Homo sapiens: one gene and its partners. Changing the gene in region 1 together with any one later gene gives a genetic interaction. Each region holds a gene or a part of one and is shown in the gene's direction. Other genes may lie near its edges.

What was found. Genes that interact genetically often act in the same process or in processes that back each other up.
Region 2: changes in CAMK2A (region 1) and BSG together harm fitness less than expected from each alone (positive genetic interaction), as found in Homo sapiens cells (one large-scale study listed by BioGRID).
Region 3: changes in CAMK2A (region 1) and AOC3 together harm fitness more than expected from each alone (negative genetic interaction), as found in Homo sapiens cells (one large-scale study listed by BioGRID).
Region 4: changes in CAMK2A (region 1) and EHMT2 together harm fitness less than expected from each alone (positive genetic interaction), as found in Homo sapiens cells (one large-scale study listed by BioGRID).

Annotation. Positions count from the first base shown.
Region 1 is NC_000005.10:150,254,096-150,259,663, reverse strand, and holds part of CAMK2A (calcium/calmodulin-dependent protein kinase type II subunit alpha), read left to right. Parts: intron 1-2,046; coding exon 2,047-2,101; intron 2,102-2,832; coding exon 2,833-2,898; intron 2,899-3,018; coding exon 3,019-3,091; intron 3,092-5,568. UniProt on the Homo sapiens protein: Calcium/calmodulin-dependent protein kinase that functions autonomously after Ca(2+)/calmodulin-binding and autophosphorylation, and is involved in various processes, such as synaptic plasticity, neurotransmitter release and long-term potentiation.
Region 2 is NC_000019.10:579,096-582,830, forward strand, and holds part of BSG (basigin isoform 1 precursor), read left to right. Parts: intron 1-404; coding exon 405-561; intron 562-1,283; coding exon 1,284-1,366; intron 1,367-1,550; coding exon 1,551-1,687; intron 1,688-2,219; coding exon 2,220-2,496; intron 2,497-3,210; coding exon 3,211-3,235; intron 3,236-3,418; coding exon 3,419-3,482; 3' UTR 3,483-3,487; intron 3,488-3,654; 3' UTR 3,655-3,735.
Region 3 is NC_000017.11:42,854,199-42,856,646, forward strand, and holds part of AOC3 (amine oxidase [copper-containing] 3), read left to right. Parts: exon of another isoform or gene 1-249; coding exon 250-535; intron 536-1,195; coding exon of another isoform or gene 1,196-1,245; coding exon 1,246-1,375; intron 1,376-2,076; coding exon 2,077-2,352; 3' UTR 2,353-2,448. UniProt on the Homo sapiens protein: Catalyzes the oxidative deamination of primary amines to the corresponding aldehydes with the concomitant production of hydrogen peroxide and ammonia. Has a preference for the primary monoamines methylamine and benzylamine.
Region 4 is NC_000006.12:31,883,964-31,887,698, reverse strand, and holds part of EHMT2 (histone-lysine N-methyltransferase EHMT2), read left to right. Parts: intron 1-39; coding exon 40-122; intron 123-597; coding exon 598-704; intron 705-801; coding exon 802-924; intron 925-1,016; coding exon 1,017-1,118; intron 1,119-2,643; coding exon of another isoform or gene 2,644-2,682; coding exon 2,683-2,787; coding exon of another isoform or gene 2,788-2,808; intron 2,809-2,899; coding exon 2,900-3,054; intron 3,055-3,139; coding exon 3,140-3,307; intron 3,308-3,494; exon of another isoform or gene 3,495-3,735. UniProt on the Homo sapiens protein: Histone methyltransferase that specifically mono- and dimethylates 'Lys-9' of histone H3 (H3K9me1 and H3K9me2, respectively) in euchromatin.

The DNA of each region.
Region 1 (5,568 bases):
GAAAGGAATTAAAGCAGAATTACATGTGCCTTTAAGATTTTGCTTTAGAATATATTTAAAACATCTTTTAGTTATTATTTATAAATATATATCATCATTAAAGAATGTTTTAAAATTTCATTTTATTATTATTGTGATTATTTTGAGACATTCTCACTCTATTATCTAGGCTGGAATGCAGTGGGGCAATCTTGGCTCACTGCACCCTCCGCCCCCTGGGCTCAAACAACCCTCCCACCTTAGCTTCCCAAATAGCTGGGACGACAAATGCCTGTGCCACCATGCCCAACTAATTTTTGTATTGTTTGTAGAGATGGGGTTTCATCATGTTGCCCAGGTTGGTCTTGAACTGCTGAGCTCAAGTGATCCACCCACCTCAGCCTCCCATAGTGCTGGGATTACAGGGTGAGCCACCGCACCTGGCCTAAATTTTTATTTTATTTTATTTTATTTTATCTTATTTTATTTTAGTTTTTATTTTTTTGAGATGGAGTGTTGCTTTGTCGCTCAGGCTGTAGTGCAGTGGCACGATCTCGGCTCACTGCAAACTCCACCTCCTGGGCTCAAGCAATTATCCTGCCTCAGCCTCTGGAGTAGCTGGGATTATAAGCATGGGCCACCACACCCAGCTAATTTTTGTATTTTTAGTAGAGATGGGGTTTCACCATGTTGGCCAGGCTGGTCTCAAACGCCTGACCTCAGGCGATCCACCTGCTTCGGCCTCCCAAAGTGCTGGGATTACAAGCGTGAGCCACCGCTCCCAGCCTAAATTTTCATTTTAATCTGTGCCCCTTCCCTCTCCATCTCTGGTGCCCATCCACCTCTCCCTACTGGCATCAGCTCTGGGGTATCTGATGCCTGCCTCTCTCCAAATTTTATGTGCAAATACGACAGCCATAAACAATTCAGGGGACTCAATATTGAGCCAGAAATATATGCACATGGCAAACATTCAGATGGCACTAGGATTCATAGTGAAAAGTGAGTCTCCTCTCATGACCCAACTCCCCCAATTCCCCTCCCCAGAGGCACCCTCAGTGCCTGCTTGTCTGTATTCTTCCAGAGAGACTTATGCCATATATAAACTTAAATACATCCTTTAAAAAAGTACTACGCATACTGTTTTGCACTTTGCTTTTTCACCAAGCAACATAATTTGGAGATGACTCTGAACCAGTAGATACATAACTGCCGCATTATTTTAGCAGCTGTGCCATTTTCCATTGTGCGGATGAATCGTCATTCACTGAGCCAGCACGCCCCTGCATGGACATTTTTAGGCTGTGGTGCGGGGAAGGATGTGAGCCCTGTCCTGTGAGACTTGCTCTTGACTGACAGGATGTGGTCCCAGAGTCAGCCCCAGGACTCAGGCCCTTCCTTCTAATAGCTCAGGGGTGCATGCTGGGAGCCCTGGGCTCCTGGGAGCTTTGCCTCTGTTCTGGGTAAATGGGGTGTGAAGAGATGACAGCTCCTCAGCATGCCAGAACGCAGGGACCCTTTCACTCCTGCCTCTGGCCTCCATGCTCCATTATCTCCTCAGACTTGGGAGCAGAGCAGGATATTAGCTCAGGCAGCACTGAGTGAGCACCAACTGCATGCCTCCTGGAACTCTCATAACAAGCCTGCAAGTCCAGGAGTTTCATTCTCATTGTCCAGGCAAGGAAAGAGAGGCTCAGAAAGGCCTAGCAACTTGCCAGAAGTCACACGGCTAGTAAGTGGCAGAGATTGGAGTCACAGGCTTTCCATGACTTGGGCCTGCCCAGCAACCAAACAGGGTTTCGGAGAGGGGAGGGCGCTAAACTCTGACCTAAACAGGCATCTTTCATGTTGAAGCCCAGCCCTCTTTCAGTAATGCCTGAGGTCTATTCGGACTCAATGCAGTGAGCCCTTGTTCACCAGCGCTTGTCAAAGCACCTGGCACCTGGTGTATACTCAGTGACTGTCTGGGAGCGGGGGGTGTTGGATATACACGGGAGGGGAGAGAGGGAGGGCGGGCCTGTGCAGCAGTGTGTCCCACTGTAACCAACTGCCTTGCCCCGCCCACAGTCCGACTACATGACAGCATCTCAGAGGAGGGACACCACTACCTGATCTTCGACCTGTGAGTTTGGCCCCGCCCTGGGATGCGCCAACGGTGTTGGGGCTGCCTAACCAGTGATGGCCTCACTGGACCTCTTGGGCTGAATTCCCTCTTGTGGTCCAGAGTTTCCCCAAATGTGGTGGGCCTGCCACCCAAGCAGTGCAAGCTGACTTTCCTAAAACACCAACAAACACTTTTAGCTTTCATCCTATATTTATTTTTGCTTCTCTTCTATTTGTGGCCAGTGATGCTGGTTTTCCATTTTCAGTGGCAATATAAAGTTTCCTTCTGGAATATGTTTAATTTTTTTTTGAGGAGTGTTGATTCAAAGAGAAGCAATAATGAAATGATAGGCCACAGTAGTTCCTGGTATGGCAATGAAAATCAGTGATGGGGCCAGTCTCATCGATAAAAAATAGCCTTTGAGATATTGATCATGGGGGAGGCCATAGGCTTCCTAATGAGCCTAGTGATGTGCTCTGACTTTCCCTAACCTCCGGACTCCAGCCTGGGTTAGGTGGGGAAGAAGGGCCGGGGATGGAGGAGGAGAGGGGACTGGAGTCAATGGAAGGGTGCTCTGGAAGACAGGAAGGGCATTGCAGCAGGGGACACCCCCGTGACCCTGGGGCCCCTCCTTTTGTGGCTGAGGTCCTGAGGTCCCTGGGCCCCATCCTTAGTTTCCTGGAGACTCCTCCAGATGAGGCAGCACCTGTCGCCTCTATTAGAGGGTGATTCCATGCCTGTCTCCCCAGGGTCACTGGTGGGGAACTGTTTGAAGATATCGTGGCCCGGGAGTATTACAGTGAGGCGGATGCCAGGTGAGTGTCAGGTGCTGCCTGGCAATGGCACCCGGGGACAGGGCACTCTTGCCTGCTGTCAGCTTCCCAGGGGAGGCCTGTGCTCACACCACCATGACCCCTTCCTCTCTCTCTCCCTAGTCACTGTATCCAGCAGATCCTGGAGGCTGTGCTGCACTGCCACCAGATGGGGGTGGTGCACCGGGACCTGAAGGTGAGCAACCCACCGTGGGTGTGGCTCACCCCGGGAGCCCCTCTCTCCTCTGCACGTCCCTAATCCTGCAGAGCTGGACATTATCAGAATCGCTTTAATTTCTCTGTGTTAGGCTGGAAGGTGGGGTGGGTGAGATTATTTTCCCCACTGTTCAGATGAGGAAGCAGAGCTCAGGAAGGTAGAGCGTCTGTGTTTGGGCCCCTGCTCTTCCAACTCCCAGCCCACATGCTTTGTGCCAGGATGGGTGAGCTGCAGTTATACTGTCATGACTGGCTACGGTGGGTGGGGAAGAAGGCAGGCTGGGTCCAAATCTCAACCAGGCCACTTTCCAGCCATGCAGCCTTTAGTAGCATGACCTTCCTGAGCCTCAGATTCTTCACAATGGGGGTTGCCATAGCAACCTCTGCAAAGGGTTGGTGAGGATATGAAATGAGATAGCACGGGGCCTGGTATACAGATGCATTCTTAGTCTTGTTCCTGCATCTCTGGCAGGCCAGGGGAGAAGAAAAACCAGACTCTAGGCCCGTGCAGTTCTCCTTTCTTTTACCTGAAGGAGATTGCAGAGTCTAGGACTGGCACCAGCTGCACAGCCTTGCTCCTTCAGCAGGGACTTCATGGATCTCCGCTGCTGATCCTCATGGTATCAGTGGCTGGTAGTTCATATTGTCTCCATTTTGCAGAGCAGGAAACTAAGGCCTAAGAGTTCAAGCAATTTGCCCAAGAACATGCAGTTCAATTGTCCTTAGCTAGGGCGGGGGAATTCTGGCCTTCTAACCCCTGATCCTGTGACCTTGGGAGTCTGGTGCCAAAAGGTCACTCTATCCAGCTCCTGCTTCCTCAGCAGCCCCTTCTAGGGTGACCCTGCCAGATGTCCATCAAACCTCTGCTTTTTGTTCTTCAGTGACAGCAAACTCACTTCCCATGGGGTAGCCCCTTGCACCACTGGGGAACACTCTTCCCTGCTGGAGGGGCTTTGCCCTGAACCTCAGTTCTGCCATTTGGAACCACACAGAGACCAAACCTCCAGCTTGGAAGAGCCCTAGACGGACTCCAGCAGCTTTGTTGTAGCTGCTAAGTCCCCTGCAGGGTGTACCCACCCCTGCCACGGTCCTCCCGGAGTGTGATTTTCAGGCCAGCCTCATCCTGGGCACCTTCCCTGGGCATGCTTCCACTGGTCTGGGTCCCTCTTTGGGGCACAATGCTCTGAAGAGAGACCCTGCCCCTCTCTGACTGTCCTGGGCAGACACGGCTTCTCTCCTGAGCCCTAGGCAAGCTCCCTGTGGCTCAGTCTAGATGAGACGAGTGTGCACTCCAAGAGGGTCTCCAGCCAGACTGCAGGGCACCTCTCCCAGAGGGCCTGTTCCCATTATAGCTGCAGCCCCTGCACTGGAGGAGGAAGGAGGAGAGGCAGCCCAAATTTAGGCCACTCTGGATATAATAATTAGTGACACATTCATCAAATCAGGGCAGGACGGTTACCGAGACCCAGGACATGTTAGGAACATTGTCCCCAGAGGACAAAGGAGGCCTTTGAGCCAGGCGGAGGGAGCTATATTTGTTTGGGTCCAGCCTAGCTTTAGACAGTGAAAGGTCAGAGGTGGGACCCTTCAGAAGTCCCACTGGGAAGGGGATCAGAGGAGGACTCAAAACCAACAGTCTTCAGAGACTCTGAGCCCCTCCCCAAGCCAAAAATAGAAGTACTAACATTTACCAAGCACTTACTGTAGGCCACAGCGAAGTGCTTACACAGATTATCTCAGTTAATCCATGCACCACCCCATAAGGTAAGCATTTTTCTCAGAGGAAACTAAAGCTCAGAGAAGTGAAATAATTTGCCCATATGTCATGGCATAGAGGTGGGCAGCATCGGGATCAGAAACTGGGACTATCTAAGCGAGCCCACAGTCTTAGCGCCCCTCCATCCTGAGTCTCAGGGTGAAGGGACCAGCAGGAAGTGGAGGAATTCTGGAGGCTGAGCCAGTGCAAAGCAGCAGCCTCGATGCCCAGAGGCCAGGTGTGGGACCTTCCCAAGTCAGCTGCTGGCCCCATGTATAAGCCTCATCATCTTTCAGCCTAGAGCAGTTAAGATAGAGTCAGACTTTGCCTCGATTCTGGCTCTATCCCTTACCAGCTGCGTGATCTTGGCCAAGTCACTTAACCTCTCTGAGCTTCAGTTTTCTCATCTTTATATACGTGACAAATACTTATTAAGTGCCTGCTGTGTGGCCCCCCAACCTAGGTGCTGGTGATACAGTGGTGAACAGGACAGATAAGGAACTCACATTCCCCAGGGCTGACAGATGATAAACAAGCACATAGACAGATGGGAGAAAACACTGCAAATTGTGATGAGATCTATGAAGGTAACAACAGGAGCAAAGACACAGGATGCCTGAGGGCTTCCCCTCTAGATAGAGTAAACTTGGATGGCCTCCTCCATGGGGTGACATGAGACTGAGGGCTGGACAAAGTAAAGG
Region 2 (3,735 bases), on another chromosome or scaffold:
AGCTCGATGCCCTGGTCCCTGCTCAGGGACGTGGGTGGGTGCCTTGTCTGTCCCCACACCCTGGTCCCAGCCTCGTGTGTCTCTGGGCAGGAACATCGCCAGGCGGGGCCTCTGGGTTCCCAGCGCCTTAGCCCAGGGCCCGCCAGCTGCCAGCGAAGGGTGCCTTCCCGAAGGGGGTGCCTTCCCGAAGGGGCCTCCTCAGCAGGCGCTGGGCTCTTCCCTTCCCGGAGGCGTGGCCAGAAGTTCCCCTTGGGCCTCCGGTCCTCGGGGCGTAAGGGCCACGGTGTATTTTTGGGATGAAAACCAGTCCTTCCCGGGGAGGAGCCGCAGGTTCCTGGGGGTCAGGCAGGCAGCGCGGGCCGTGCTCCTCCACTCTGCTGACCGCGTCTCGCCGGGCCTTGCAGCCGGCACAGTCTTCACTACCGTAGAAGACCTTGGCTCCAAGATACTCCTCACCTGCTCCTTGAATGACAGCGCCACAGAGGTCACAGGGCACCGCTGGCTGAAGGGGGGCGTGGTGCTGAAGGAGGACGCGCTGCCCGGCCAGAAAACGGAGTTCAAGTGAGTGCCTGACCACGCCATGCCGCCACCTGCCCCTTCTCACGGCTCTCTTGCCGCCAGCGGCCTGTGGTCCGTGAGAACAAAAGACCGGTCGGCAGGCTTGATCCAGGCGGAAGTTAGGGACCAGCTCCGCGCAGACCCCCAGAGGGAAACCCCAGGGAGGGGTCTGAGGGGCGTCCTTGTGAGGCAGGGGGCTCCAGCAGCCCTGGCAGGAGTCCCCATTGCTTGCTCCTCACTAGGTCCCGGGCACGAAAGGGCGCCACACTGCCAGGTCCCGGGCACGTGTGCGGGCCTCCCAGGCTCTGTGCTCCTGGCACAAGAGGGCACCACACTGAGGCATGCCCTGCTCGGACCCCAGACGCTGTCATGGCCGGAGCTTTGTCATAACTGGGGCTGGGACGGCCCTGGGAGCACAGAGCCTTTTGTTTTCAGGCTGACTGGGAAGACGGTCACAGGGTGTGGGGTGCAGAGCAGGGACCAGAGGTGTGGGGTTCATCAGTCGGGGAGAAGGGGGTCTGTTGGTTCTCTCACCTGTGGGGTCTTGCCAGCCTGGCTCTGTCCTTGGGGCCGCACGGGGACCCCAGGAGTTCTTTTGAGGTTCAGACTTGACTGGGACAGTTTTGCTTTTTCACTGTGCCGTGGTTGGGCCCCTGGAGAACCCTGGGTCCTTGGAGGCGTCCTGCAGAGCTGGTACGCGGCTCACCTGCCTGCTGTGGTTGCAGGGTGGACTCCGACGACCAGTGGGGAGAGTACTCCTGCGTCTTCCTCCCCGAGCCCATGGGCACGGCCAACATCCAGCTCCACGGTGAGTCCTGCAGCCAGGGGTACCGGGCACCACCGACTGTCGGGAGAAGTTGTTGGCCTGAGGCACCCGGCACATCCCAGAGCCCTGGCCCCCTGCTCCCTGGAGGGGAACAGCCCTCCTGCGGGAGGCCGGGGATGGGGGCGGGCCTGCGGTTCCAGGCTCCTCTCTCTCACCCTCCTGTCAGGGCCTCCCAGAGTGAAGGCTGTGAAGTCGTCAGAACACATCAACGAGGGGGAGACGGCCATGCTGGTCTGCAAGTCAGAGTCCGTGCCACCTGTCACTGACTGGGCCTGGTACAAGATCACTGACTCTGAGGACAAGGTGAGAAGCCAAGGAGGCTGGGGGTCCTGGACCCAGCCCTCAGGACTGGGTGAGAGGCCTAGACTGGGGGTCCCGGACCCAGCCCTCAGGACTGGGTGAGGGGCCTAGACTGGGGGTCCCGGACCCAGCCCTCAGGACTGGGTGAGGGGCCTAGACTGGGGGTCCCGGACCCAGCCCTCCGGACTGGGTGAGGGGCCTAGACTGGGGGTCCCGGACCCAGCCCTCCGGACTGGGTGAGGGGCCTAGACTGGGGGTCCCGGACCCAGCCCTCTGGACTGCAGCCCTCCAGACTGGGTGAGGGGCCTAGACTGGGGGTCCCGGACCCAGCCCTCAGGACTGGGTGAGGGGCCTAGACTGGGGGTCCCGGACCCAGCCCTCCGGACTGGGTGAGGGGCCTAGACTGGGGGTCCCGGACTCAGCCCTCCGGACTGGGTGAGGGGCCTAGACTGGGGGTCCCGGACTCAGCCCTCAGGACTGGGTGAGGGGCCTAGACTGGGGGTCCTGGACTCAGCCCTTGCCTTTGGTCCCCTAGGCCCTCATGAACGGCTCCGAGAGCAGGTTCTTCGTGAGTTCCTCGCAGGGCCGGTCAGAGCTACACATTGAGAACCTGAACATGGAGGCCGACCCCGGCCAGTACCGGTGCAACGGCACCAGCTCCAAGGGCTCCGACCAGGCCATCATCACGCTCCGCGTGCGCAGCCACCTGGCCGCCCTCTGGCCCTTCCTGGGCATCGTGGCTGAGGTGCTGGTGCTGGTCACCATCATCTTCATCTACGAGAAGCGCCGGAAGCCCGAGGACGTCCTGGATGGTGAGCCGTCTGCCCTCCTGCCCACATGCCCTGCTCTCGGGGTGGCCCAGGGCCACTCCTGGTCCGTCCCTGCCAGCCCCACCGCTGACCCAGAGCTTGGAACTGAGGAGCCCCAGGCAGGGAGTTGATGGGACCCCGAAAGAAAGTGTGGGATGGAGGGTCTAGCCCCGGGCAGCTGCGGCTCAGTGGGCAGCGGGACCCCGGGAGGAGGAGGCGGCACCTCCGCCCCACAGCCTCACCCGGCCCTTCCCTCCCGCTCACTTGGCTGCAAGCCAGTGTCCTCCGTGGTGAGCCGGCCCTTGCTGCTCTGCATGATCAGGCTCGGGAACCTGAGGTCAGCCATGCTGTGCTCCGGCAGCCCCTGCCTGCCTCCTCGCGGAGCCCTTCTGCCCCTTGGGCTGCGTGTGCCGGGGCGAGGCCTGTGTGGGGCCTGTGATGGCAGCTCCTGGAAAACGCTGTGGGGCAGGGGTGAGGCCCACGAGGCCATGGGGACAGCTCACCATGGGGAGCACACCTGCAGGTGGGGAGGGCTGCCTTTCCCCACAGCACTCAGAAGATGCACGTGGCCGGGGCTGATGAGCTGCCCCGAGCCACCCCTGGGGGTCACTGAGGGCAGGGCTGGCAGCACAGATGCCCCTGCTCGGGGCCTGAGTGGGGCCAGTGCTGACAGGCTGTCCTCTCGTCCTCTTTTTCATGGCGGCGGTCCTTCTTCAGATGACGACGCCGGCTCTGCACCCCTGTAAGTTCCAGCTGTGGGGGTCGGGGGTCCCAAGGAGCGGCCTGCTGCCCCAGGCCTTTAAAACACAAAGGCAGAGCCCCTGGGCTTCAGTATTCGGGGGTCCTGGGGGCCGGGGTGGGCAGGGGTGACTTGGAGAGAGTGACTTGCGGGGGACACCCTCTCACCCGGCCCCTCGTGCCCCAGGAAGAGCAGCGGGCAGCACCAGAATGACAAAGGCAAGAACGTCCGCCAGAGGAACTCTTCCTGAGGCAGGTGCGGTGGGCGGGAGCTCCTCCTGAGCCAGGTGTGGTGGGTGGGTGGGCGGGAACTCCTGAGCCAGGTGTGGTGGGCGGGATCTGCTAGCCAGGTGTGGGCTCCTGGGTCCCGCCTGTGGGTCGCTGGGAGGTGGGTCCAGTCTGAGCGCCCCTCCCTGTCCACAGGTGGCCCGAGGACGCTCCCTGCTCCACGTCTGCGCCGCCGCCGGAGTCCACTCCCAGTGCTTGCAAGATTCCAAGTTCTCA
Region 3 (2,448 bases), on another chromosome or scaffold:
CCTCTCTGCTAATGAATGTTGAAAGAATGAATGAGTGAAATGGAATGAACTCCCTGATGAAGTATTTTAATTTACAGGTCAACAGCTTTGGCTAAAGGATTGGAGGTATCCTGGGGAGAGGGAAGAGAAGGAGGGGCACACTCAGTTCTGGGCTGCTCTTTGGCCCCCACTCTGAAGCCAGATGGGGGCAGAGTCCAGAGGGGCCAGGGCAGTTGCCTGACAGGCCCTCCCCTATCCCACCCTGAGCAGGACTGGAGAACTGGGTCTGGGCCGAGGATATGGTCTTTGTCCCCATGGCTGTGCCCTGGAGCCCTGAGCACCAGCTGCAGAGGCTGCAGGTGACCCGGAAGCTGCTGGAGATGGAGGAGCAGGCCGCCTTCCTCGTGGGAAGCGCCACCCCTCGCTACCTGTACCTGGCCAGCAACCACAGCAACAAGTGGGGTCACCCCCGGGGCTACCGCATCCAGATGCTCAGCTTTGCTGGAGAGCCGCTGCCCCAAAACAGCTCCATGGCGAGAGGCTTCAGCTGGGAGAGGTGAGTGGCGGGCAGTCAGAGAGGAGGGGGGCAGTGAGAGTGGGAAAGGAGTGTTGGCGGACACTCAGCTCACACTGTAGGTGAGGGGAGAGCTCTCTCAGGAAGGCTTTTCTTTTCCTTTTTTTTTTTTTTTTTTGAGATGGAGTTTTGCTCTGTTGCCCAGGCCGGAGTGCAGTGGAGCAATCTCACTGCATCCTCCGCCTCCCAGTTTCAAGCGATTCTCCTGCCTCAGCCTCCCCAGTAGCTGGGATTACAGGTGCACGCCACCACACATGGCTAATTTTTGTATTTTTAGTAGAGATAGGGTTTCACCATGTTGGCCAGGCTGGTCTCGAACTCCTGACCTCATGATCCACCCTCCTTGGTCTCCCAAAGTGCTGTGATTACAGGCATGAGCCACAATGCCTGGCCAAAGGTTTTTCTAGTTATCCAAAGAAACCATGATGGGCACATTTTCCCCTTGGAGGCTAAAGCCCAGGAGTGAGAACTCTCTTCTGTTTTGGATGGGAGAGGGGTTGTACTGTTAAATGGCTGGGGATAAACAGGAGGACTTGACCCCCCTTAGGGTGACGTCGGGGATTCTGTAGCGCCGAGTCAGTTGTGTGACTGCAATTGGGGAAGCTGAGCTCTGAGCACTCAGTTCCCTTTCATCATAATCAGGCAGCAGGATGGGGTCAATGGCCATGGAGGCCTGACCAGTGCCTCCCTAGGTACCAGCTGGCTGTGACCCAGCGGAAGGAGGAGGAGCCCAGTAGCAGCAGCGTTTTCAATCAGAATGACCCTTGGGCCCCCACTGTGGATTTCAGTGACTTCATCAACAATGAGACCATTGCTGGAAAGGTCAGCTGGCCGGGGTAGAGGGTACAGGATGAGCCTTGCTTTCTCTTGGGAGGGTCCCTGAAAACCACCTGCACTTCTCAGGGGTGGTGCTGATTCCTGCCTTCTGCACTTCAGTATATCTGATCATTATCCTTTGAGGGAACCTTCCTGAGCTGGGTGTCCATATGCAGACACTGAGTGAGGCCCTGGGCCTGTCCTTGAGATCTTAGAGCCCTCTTAGTTCCAGTTTCATGGACTGAGTCCTTTCCAGGCTCCAGGACTCAGGAGGGATGGAAGTTACCAGGGAAAATGACATCTCCTGTATCTGAAGCTTCTCCCATTCCTGACTTGATGAATTTCACAATGTTGGCCTGGTTCTGCTTCCCAAGCGCTGGTTCTTTTTCCTCCACCCTTCTTTCCTCAGTTGTGGGGAACTCTTGGAGAGTTAGGGGAAGAGGAGCTGAAGTAGCCTGTGGGTGTCACCCTCTGGGGGTAGATAGGCAATGGGCGATATGATGGGAAATGTCAGAGATGGAGGCTGCAAGCCAGGGACAGGGAAGCAGGTGTTCCTAATATGAAATGGACTACTTATGCTTTGACTCCTACCCAGCAGGAAAAAATGTTTAAAGACTCATGATCCTTGGGCTGGTGAGCTGAATCCCTACCAGGGCATGTCCTCAGCAAAGCCAGACCTCGTGATCCTCTTTCTTCTCCCCTGCTAGGATTTGGTGGCCTGGGTGACAGCTGGTTTTCTGCATATCCCACATGCAGAGGACATTCCTAACACAGTGACTGTGGGGAACGGCGTGGGCTTCTTCCTCCGACCCTATAACTTCTTTGACGAAGACCCCTCCTTCTACTCTGCCGACTCCATCTACTTCCGAGGGGACCAGGATGCTGGGGCCTGCGAGGTCAACCCCCTAGCTTGCCTGCCCCAGGCTGCTGCCTGTGCCCCCGACCTCCCTGCCTTCTCCCACGGGGGCTTCTCTCACAACTAGGCGGTCCTGGGATGGGGCATGTGGCCAAGGGCTCCAGGGCCAGGGTGTGAGGGATGGGGAGCAGCTGGGCACTGGGCCGGCAGCCTGGTTCCCTCT
Region 4 (3,735 bases), on another chromosome or scaffold:
AGCTCCCCTTCTCTCCCCGCTCCCGTGCTCCCTTGGCAGGCGGAAGAAGCTCCGTTTCCACCCTCGGCAGTTGTACCTGTCCGTGAAGCAGGGCGAGCTGCAGAAGGTGATCCTGATGCTGTGTGAGTGCCACCCATTCCTTCAGCAGACCTTGACCAAGCTTCATGTATATACCAGGCACTGGGTACAGGGCCAGGAGTACAGTCGTGAAGGACACAGTCCTTGCCCTGAAGGACTTAGTGTGGTGGGGAAAAGACACATGTAACCCATAACGATGGGGATGTGGTGACTCATAGGTGCTGGGTCCTGTTCTGAGTGCTTATACCTGTTAGCCTTGGCTTGCACAGAGAGGTTAGGGACCTTGCACAGTGCACAGTGGTACTGAGAAGCAAGGCAGGGTTTGAATTCAGGCAGAGCTGATGCCTTTGACTCCTTATTCTGATAAATGCTGTGGTGGAGGCAAGCTCGGAGAATGCCAGGAGGGGCCCTGATCCAGCTTGGGGCCCTGAGAAGCCTTCCTGAAAGAAGTGCCACCTGCCCCCTAGCTTGCTTACCACTTGTCCCTCCCTCTCCCGGTGTGGCGGGCTCTCCCCGCAGTGGACAACCTGGACCCCAACTTCCAGAGCGACCAGCAGAGCAAGCGCACGCCCCTGCATGCAGCCGCCCAGAAGGGCTCCGTGGAGATCTGCCATGTGCTGCTGCAGGTCAGCACGGGCCCGGCCCCATGCCTCATTCACCAGGCCCTTAGGCCCCTCCCCTGCCCCATGCCTCCCTGGTGCCAGCCCTCCTGCCCCCTCACAGGCTGGAGCCAACATAAATGCAGTGGACAAACAGCAGCGGACGCCACTGATGGAGGCCGTGGTGAACAACCACCTGGAGGTAGCCCGTTACATGGTGCAGCGTGGTGGCTGTGTCTATAGCAAGGTGTGCGCGCAGGCAGCAGGGCGTGGCCCCCGGAGTCAGGGACCAGGTTTGGGGTGCCAGCCCAAAGGCTCATTTGCCCGTGTCTCCCTCAGGAGGAGGACGGTTCCACCTGCCTCCACCACGCAGCCAAAATCGGGAACTTGGAGATGGTCAGCCTGCTGCTGAGCACAGGACAGGTGGACGTCAACGCCCAGGTCAGCGGCCCACCCAGCCCAGCCCCTCTGGGTCCCTGGTGCCTGGGTTCCTTGGCTTGGCCTCAGGCTTTGGGCCGCCTTTCCTACATCTGACCTCACACTGCTCGTGTCTGTCCTCATTGCTTTCTTCTTCCTCATTTGTATTTCTCTTCATTCTTTTCTTTCTCGTTTCTTTCTCTTTATCAAGTTTCAGAATAATCAGTTCCTGTCTTAATCTCTGAAAGTGTCCAGTGAGGCTTTTTATTAACTCTTGGGTTGTCATACATTGGATGTGTTTTAGTCATTTATTGGCATTCTTCTCAGTCTTTGAATTATTCCATCATTGTCCAGAAGAAGCCCCTTTAAGAGGCCTCTGTGGCTGTGACATGACCCAGTGGCCCAGTGGCCTTTGAGAGCCTCCTGACCTTTCAGCACATTTCCTGCCCCCAACTCAGAATCCACCATTTCTCTAAGAAACTCTGCTTCCTTTATGGGAAACTTTTTTTTTTTTTTTTGAGACGGAGTCTCACTCTGTTGCCCAGGCTGGAGTGCAATGGCGTGATCACAGCTTACTGCAAGCTCCGCCTCCCAGGTTCACGCCATTCTCCTGCCTCAGCCTCCCGAGTAGCTGGGATTACAGGCGCCCACCACCATGCCCGGCTAATTTTTGTATTTTTAGTAGAGACGGGGTTTCACCATATTGGCCAGGCTGATCTTGAACTCCTGACCTCGTGAGCCACAGCGCCCGGCCAGAAGCATTTTTTAGAGAATACAATCTATGTTCCTAGGAGTGTTTATTGTTATTGGGTTGTCGCTGCTTCTAGGACTTTTGAGTGGGCAGACTTAGGAAATTTTTGTTCGTTTTTTCTTTTAAGAGACAGGGTCTTGCTATGTCACCCAGGCTGAAGTACAGTAGCAGTTCACAGACAGTCATAGCTCTCTGCAGCCTCGAAATCCTGGGCTCAAGCAACCCTCCCATCTCAGTCACATGAGTAGCTGGGACTACAGGCATGCACCTCCATGACCAGCTCCTGGCTGTATTTTTTGGAAAGAGAACAATTACTTTATTTTCTCTCTGGCATCAGATGGTAGACGCTACTAGTCCCATTTTTGTTTGTTTGTTTTTTGAGACGGAGTCTTGCTCTGTCGCCCAGGCTGGAGTGCAGTGGCACGATCTTGGCTCACTGCAAGCTCCGCCTCCCGGGTTCACGCCATTCTGCCTCAGCCTCCCTAGTAGCTGGGACTACAGGCGCCTGCCACCACGCCCAGCTAATTTTTTCTATTTTTTAGTAGAGACAGGGTTTCACCGTGTTGGCCACAATGGCCTCCATCTCCTGACCTCGTGATCCGCCCGCCTCGGCCTCCCAAAGTGCTGGGATTACAGGCATGAGCCACCGCGCCCGACCCTACTAGTCCCATTTTTTAGATGAAGAAACTGCGACCCAGAGACGTTAAGTGACTTACCCAGGGTCCCACAGCTTGTGAATGGTGGAGCTGGGATTCACACACACAGCCAATCTTGACCATTTGCTGCTTTGGTGAGCAGGGCCAGCTGCCCCCACCCTCACTCCCTTCCCACCCACAGGACAGTGGGGGGTGGACGCCCATCATCTGGGCTGCAGAGCACAAGCACATCGAGGTGATCCGCATGCTACTGACGCGGGGCGCCGACGTCACCCTCACTGACAACGTGAGTGAGCGTTTGGTTGAGGTAGGGCAGCCCCAGGCCCCTGAGCAAGGTGGAGGCTGGATTCAAGGGCCCAGCTGCCTGCACCTCATCTGTTCCCCTCCTACCTCCACAGGAGGAGAACATCTGCCTGCACTGGGCCTCCTTCACGGGCAGCGCCGCCATCGCCGAAGTCCTTCTGAATGCGCGCTGTGACCTCCATGCTGTCAACTACCATGGGGACACCCCCCTGCACATCGCAGCTCGGGAGAGCTACCATGACTGCGTGCTGTGAGCCCCTGCCCCGCCCTTGATGCCCCTGCCCCCACTTCTTGCAGCCTCAGACCCTGCATTGGGCATCCTGTCCCCTCTTCAGGTTATTCCTGTCACGTGGGGCCAACCCTGAGCTGCGGAACAAAGAGGGGGACACAGCATGGGACCTGACTCCCGAGCGCTCCGACGTGTGGTTTGCGCTTCAACTCAACCGCAAGCTCCGACTTGGGGTGGGAAATCGGGCCATCCGCACAGAGAAGATCATCTGCCGGTGAGCCCTGGGCCCCTCTCTGCACCCAAGACCACCTCCTCCCCACCCATACCCTCCCCAGGCTCCATTGCATCCTCACAACATTCCCCAACCCCTCCCCATGCACCACTGAATCCCCAGAACCACCCACAGGCCCCCTCCCCACTAGGGTTGCCAGATACAGCAAATAAAAATAGAAGACACCCAGTTAAACTGGAATTTCAGATGCACAGATGCATACTTTTTTAGTGTGAGAATGTCCTGTGTAATTTTTGGGACATACTAAAAAGCTATTTCTTGTTTATCTAAAATTCTATGTTAACTCGCTGTCCTGCATCTTACCTGGCAACCTTACTCCCCTGCCCCCAGCCCCAGGAACCTCCCCAACTCTCTTCCTTATACCTGGAGTAGCTCCTCACCCCCTTTTCCAGCTTCCCAGCCCCTTCTTC